Linked DNA regions of Homo sapiens: region 2 is linked to region 1. Evidence: fine-mapped expression QTL. A gene starts in region 1. The other region holds a variant in brackets. All regions are shown on one strand. Distances are between the middles of the regions.

The links.
Region 2: its variant is fine-mapped to the expression of BORA in subcutaneous fat (TwinsUK, PIP 0.95).

What each region holds. Positions count from the first base shown.
Region 1 is chr13:72,726,269-72,729,187 of GRCh38, reverse strand. BORA (BORA aurora kinase A activator) reads right to left here and starts at 1,265. Exons shown (of 12, transcript NM_024808.5): 1 at 1,181-1,265; 2 at 95-262. The coding sequence starts at 247. It overlaps MZT1 (mitotic spindle organizing protein 1), which reads left to right and starts at 1,559. Exons shown (of 3, transcript NM_001071775.3): 1 at 1,559-1,664. The coding sequence starts at 1,586. RefSeq lists enhancers at 984-1,033, 1,754-1,823 and silencers at 1,244-1,393, 1,917-2,098, 2,054-2,113.
Region 2 is chr13:73,038,774-73,041,692 of GRCh38, reverse strand. No RefSeq gene overlaps it. Among named protein-coding and RNA genes, the nearest start is that of KLF5, 19 kb to the left of the region's middle. The variant G/A (reference allele first, on the strand shown) is at 1,258.

The DNA.
Region 1 (2,919 bases):
TCCTTACCTTGTAAAGACAGATGTTTACATTTAAAATTATTTGTAATTACTTACATTTAAAATTAGTTGTAAACACTAGTCAGGAATAACTTACTGGTAATTTTGTTGATTTAAAAACAGAAGGACTGGCGAGAGTTTGTTCATGGAGATTAGAATAATCACTAGGACTTTCAAAAGGATTTAAAACAGGGATCCTTCCTGGAGTTTCTGGTGTTATTTGCATCTTTGATTCCTTGACATCTCCCATAGCACAGAGAGAAAACTAAAAAGAAATCAAGAGTATGCATGTTAAAATTACAAAGTCCCATAGATATTAATTTTAACTATTAAAATGTACTCGACAAATGTGTCACAAAAAACAACTCAAAACCTCACACTCTTGGGGCTATGATACAGCTTACAAAAAAAGTATCACATATAAATGTTCTCAACTGATCCTCGAAACAACCTTGAAAGCTATAGCAGTAACTTACTAGTGATATTATTTTGCGAAAGTATTAAGCTCAGAGAAGTGAAGTGGCTTATACGCAGCAATCAAATATGAATGAATTCAGATCTGCCTCTGAGGAAACTAAAGGTTACAACAGGCCCAGATCTCTTCTCAACTAAAGGACTTATAGCTACAATTTTTTTTAAATTCATCATCTCATGTCTCAACACTATGAACATTCTTCGGATACCCTATCCAACTACAGTTGCTATTAAACAATTCTTTGTAGCAAGCAGGTAAGAGATGAGGAAGCTTGTGCCTTTCTTGCACATGAGTCCTAGCCAGAGAAGTATGATTGACAGGGGCTAGGAAATTAACTGCCTGGGGTCCCCTTTCCTCCAAAAATCCTCCTTTCGCCAAGACCTCCCCTCCACCCCTCCCGGGATAGAAAGGGAGACTGCATTACTTGCAATCAAAGGAGGCTACAGAGGCTACACCTTGGCGGGGTGGGGTGGAAAAGAGTCTACTTCTGGAAGGTTGAGATGCAGCCGGCTTCCCTGGATGGAGTGCGAAGGAGGCGTCGCCCCCAACCCTACGTGGCCACTCTTTCTGGTGCCCCTCTCTTCCACACCTACTCCCTGACTGCTCCCATTCACCAGGGGCGAGCGGGCAGGCAAGTCAGGAGCTGGGAAAAGAAACCTCTCCATTCAGACAGGAGGAAAGGCCAGGGACCACAAAGAGCGTACCTACCGGTGCGTACAAAACGAAGCCCCCAGTACCGACTCCAGGGAGCTCCGGGGGCCAGGCCAGCTTCCACGACAGGCATAGACTCTTTAACTCCCCGCTTCCGCGCTGTCTTGGGCCAACCAGGGCACGGGGCTTGTGAGCGACTAGCCAATCGTGTCGTCCCGCCATCCGCGAACCAGCCAATCGCACGGAGGCCGCGTAGGAAATTCGAATGGCAACTCCTCGCTCCACGTTCCGCGCAGAGGAACGTGGCTCCAAATTCAAATCAACGCAGCCTCACGCCGGCGGCGAGCGCGAGGGGCGGAGCCTGCCCGGCGTGGGCCGAGACGCGCTGTGTGATTGCCTCGGAGAGAGGAAGGCGCTCCAGTTCCGGGTCAGGCCCTTCTCCCGCCTCCCTCGGCCTTAGCCATGGCGAGTAGCAGCGGTGCTGGGGCGGCGGCGGCGGCCGCGGCGGCGAATCTGAATGCGGTGCGGGAGACCATGGACGGTGAGTTTCCGTTGCGCTCCCTTTACCTTGCGTGCCTTCCCAGAGCCAAGGCCCCCAGGCGGGAATGAGCCTGGGGAGGACTTCAGGTCCCCTTAGTGCCCCAAACGGCATCTTCCAAGATCTTTGGTAGGGACCTGCCAGGGCCGCAGGGCTGATGGCCCTATCCCTTGAGAGTTGTCTCCGCCGCTGCGTAGTTTGTCGCGCGCGCTAGGCGTTGCGGCCCCTAGTCAGCCGGTTGCGCACCGCGTCCCTCTCGCGCGAATGCCGCGCCCCCTCTATCCCGCATCCCAGGTCCGCCCTACCCGCCCGATCTCCTGCGGTGACAGCGTCACGCCCACCCCACCCAGTACACCCGTTCCCTCCTGCGTGCCGCGTCCCACCCGATTCCCGCCCGGGGCGCTTCGGGGGTCCCCAAGGTTGGGATCCCGGCGGGGACAGGGGCCAGGTGTTTGGTCACCGCTATGCCTCCTGTTCTTCGCACTTAAGTAGGCACCTTTAATATCCGGCGAATGAACAAGTTCCCCTTTGGTCATAATTATCCTAGTTTCCTCTTGAAGCGGGTGACACCAGTGCCCAAGTGCTATGGTGTCGCCTGTTTTCGGCCCCGGAGGCACGTGTGTGTGAAGCCTACACAAGTGTTGCAGAACACGAAATTTGTGTCTTGCGGTTACCCTCTGTCTACCCTCTAATGTCGGTTCTGCCACTTTATGCCCCTGTGGTGAGCTTGGACTAGATACTTAAACATCATTGAGCCTGTTTAGTTTTTTTTTTTTTTTTTTCTGTAAAATAAAACCCTACCTCCAGGAGTTGTGAATATTTAAATAAGACAACCATGTAAAAACATATCAAAGATGATCAATTATTTTTATATTATTTCAGATGGCCTCTCTCTTGTAGTCTTCTTTCTTTGTCTCCTTTTTACTCACATCCACCTGTATTATGAGTGTTTGATCGATGTTGTTATTTGCAGTGGGCCTAGACGTTTTCCAGGGTCTACTCACGTCAGCTTCCGTCTCTGTTAAAAGATAACCCTATGAAATTCTCACTGCTGTATCTCTCTCTCCTTCACCGTAGGCTCTTTTTTTCTTTTTTGAGACACAGTCTTGCTGTAGTTGCCCAGGGTGGAGTGCAATGGCGCAACCTCGGCTCACTGCAACCTCCGCCTCCCGGGTTCAGGCGATTCTCCTGCCTCAGCCTCTGGAGTAGCTGGGATTACAGGTGCCCGCCAGAACACCCGGCTAATTTTTTGTATTTT
Region 2 (2,919 bases), 310 kb before region 1:
TGAGCCAAGATCGTGCCACTGTACTCCAGCTTGGGTGACAGAGCAAGACTCCGTCAAAAAAAAAAAAAAAAAAAAAAAAAGAAGCCAAGTCACATTTTTTTTAAGATGGGATCTTTCTTTGGTATCTAAGCTGGCGTGCAGTGGCGCAATCATAGCTCACTGCAGCCTGGAACTCCTGGGCTCAAGCAATCCTCTTGCCTCAGCCTCCTGAGTGTAGCAAGGACTACAGGCGCATACCACTGCGTCTGGCTAATTTTTAAATTTTTTTGTAGAGACAAGGTCTGTCTTTGTTGCCCAGGCTGGCAAGTCACTTCATAGGAACTCATGTTTTGCAAAGATACAGGCAATAACACATTTTTTATGATAGCTTGGTAAATCTCTTAAAAGGGAGAGGTTTATGGCAGAAATGATAACGCTCTAACTACATGTGTGTGGTTAACTCTGTTTCAGCCATTCAAGTTAACTTCTACCTATATTTATGGGCTTGATTGCATAATGTATGAAGTTTGCAGGAAGTACCTGGAAGATAAGGTTACATAGACAAGTTATTTAAGTTTGAAAATAAACCACAGCTCATGCTGGGAAACTAGTTTATAGACAATTTTGTAACACAAGTGAATACGTCATTCATTTTCTTTTAATATTTTTCTTATCGCATAGTTAACATTAGGAGATTAATCATTGTTTGACTGTGCAGCATAGTAAGTTAACAGAAAAATGTAGCATCAGGGATTGATTAGCTGAAAAGTCAGTGAGTTACATTATAGAAGCGAAGATAAAGACTTGATGATATTTAAACCATCCAAACAAATGGATGATTTGCATATATGATGATGTCCCACTGGACAATGGTTTTCTTCATGAGCGTCATTCAGTAGTAAGACTCAGGTCTACTGACAAATATTGCTTGATCAACATATCATTTGCCGCAAGAAATGACCTTTTATGGTTAATGTGTAACTGATTACTGTTCTTCCTCTATAGTAGCCTACATTTTACAGCAGAGAAATACACTGTGTACACTTAGTGCCCTACAACACTAAAACATGTCAAATGGTGGTGGTATACCTTCATATATTATGATATTTGGCATTGTGCAATGGTTATGACACATTTGCAGTGCGTTCACCCTGTGTTTCAGCTCTTGTTATATGCAATAAAACTTTTGCCACAATATTTAGATACTTAGAAAAATCAAGACTATTTTTCTTACAAATTAAGAAAAGAAGAACTAAAATCTCTCATGGAGGCAATAGA[G/A]GTTTGAAAGATAATGTATGTAGAGGAAAAACTACTCCATTCTAATGAAAGCAAATTACCCTACAATCTTTGGTGTGGAAAATTAAAACTAATGACATGTTCACATTATAATGCAAAATTGCCTGTAACCTATTTTCCTAGCATGAGATGCAGCTTTTTTTCAAACGTAAATAATGTGTCCATTTAATAATTTACTCTTCTCCATTACTGCAAAGACAAAAAAAAAAAAAAAGCATTTACAATCGCCACCTTTCTATTCCATTAATTGTCAAGAACAATCCAAGAGAGTTCTGTTATTTTCCCTGTGATAATTTTAACAGATCGAACGATTTTTTTAAAACAGGTATTCATATATCTGAGGGCTCTATCTTTTTAAGTGAATGTAAGTAAAATGTGCCACCTTATTAAGTTGGAAATGACCTGTTATCTGTTATTTCTTGACCTTGCAGAGGTTTACAGTGACAAGTGAATTAACCAGGTGAGGGAGAGGGTTTGCTAGTGACTCAGTCACAGTCTATTGTGTGGGATGGCACCTAGCAAAGCATTTAGATTAGGCTGGGGAGGGAACAAAGCTAGGTACACTCTCTCCAGCTTCAGGTAAACAGGATTATTGTTTTCCATCCCTGCTGTTTGGAATGAATGCAATGCTGCAAAGCTAATTGCTGCCATAATTAGGAAAAAAAAACAAGAAGAAGAAGAAATGACTTGGAATGTGTTAATTCAGTATGCTTTAAACCTCAGAGATATCATTTTTCCTCATACACAGGCGAGGCTGGCTCTATTCATAGCTTTTTAAATGATAAGTTTAAATGTTAACATAATATTGAAAAAAATCCTTGGAAGGTAGCAGTTGGTAAGTACTTGGTGTATACAATGCTGAATGGTGGTCATTATTAGCATTGCAACCAGGTGAGTAGAAAAATCCCATTCTGGGACTTAATACCATGTACAGTAACAAATGCAATCAATTGAAATGTTCCTCTTAGAACAGGCCTTGCTGTGTGCCCAGTCTTTGCCACATACTATTTCATAAAGTATGCAACTTTCAAACCACCTCCACATAAGATTTCACTCTGCTGTTGAGAAATTCTTCCTCATGTCTAAGTAAATCACCCTATCTGCAGTTTAGCAATTCTGTTTCCTCACATCTTCAGCAACATCTAACATTCTGTATTAACATATGTCTTCAGCCGGGTAAAGTGGCTCACACCTGTAATCCCAGCACTTTGGGGGGCTGAGGCAGGTGGATCACAAGGTCAAGAGATCAAGACCATCCTGGCCAACATGGTGAAACCCCATCTGTACTAAAAATACAAAAATTAGCTGGGTGTGGTGGCATATGCCTGTTGTCCCAACTACTCAGGAGGCTGAGGCAGGAGAATCACCTGAACCTGGGAGCCGGAGGTTGCAGTGAGCCGAGGTCGCACCACTGTACTCCAGTCTGGTGACAGAGCAAGACTCCTTCTCAAAACAGAACAAAACAAAAAAACAAAAAACAAACAAAAACAAAAACAAACAAACAAAAACATATATATATATATATATATATATATATATACATGTAAGAAGAGAGATATATATATCTCTCTTCTTACGACAAAAAACTCAGCCTAATACCACAAAATGAACATAGCAGAACTGAAAAAAAATTTCTGTCTCCAT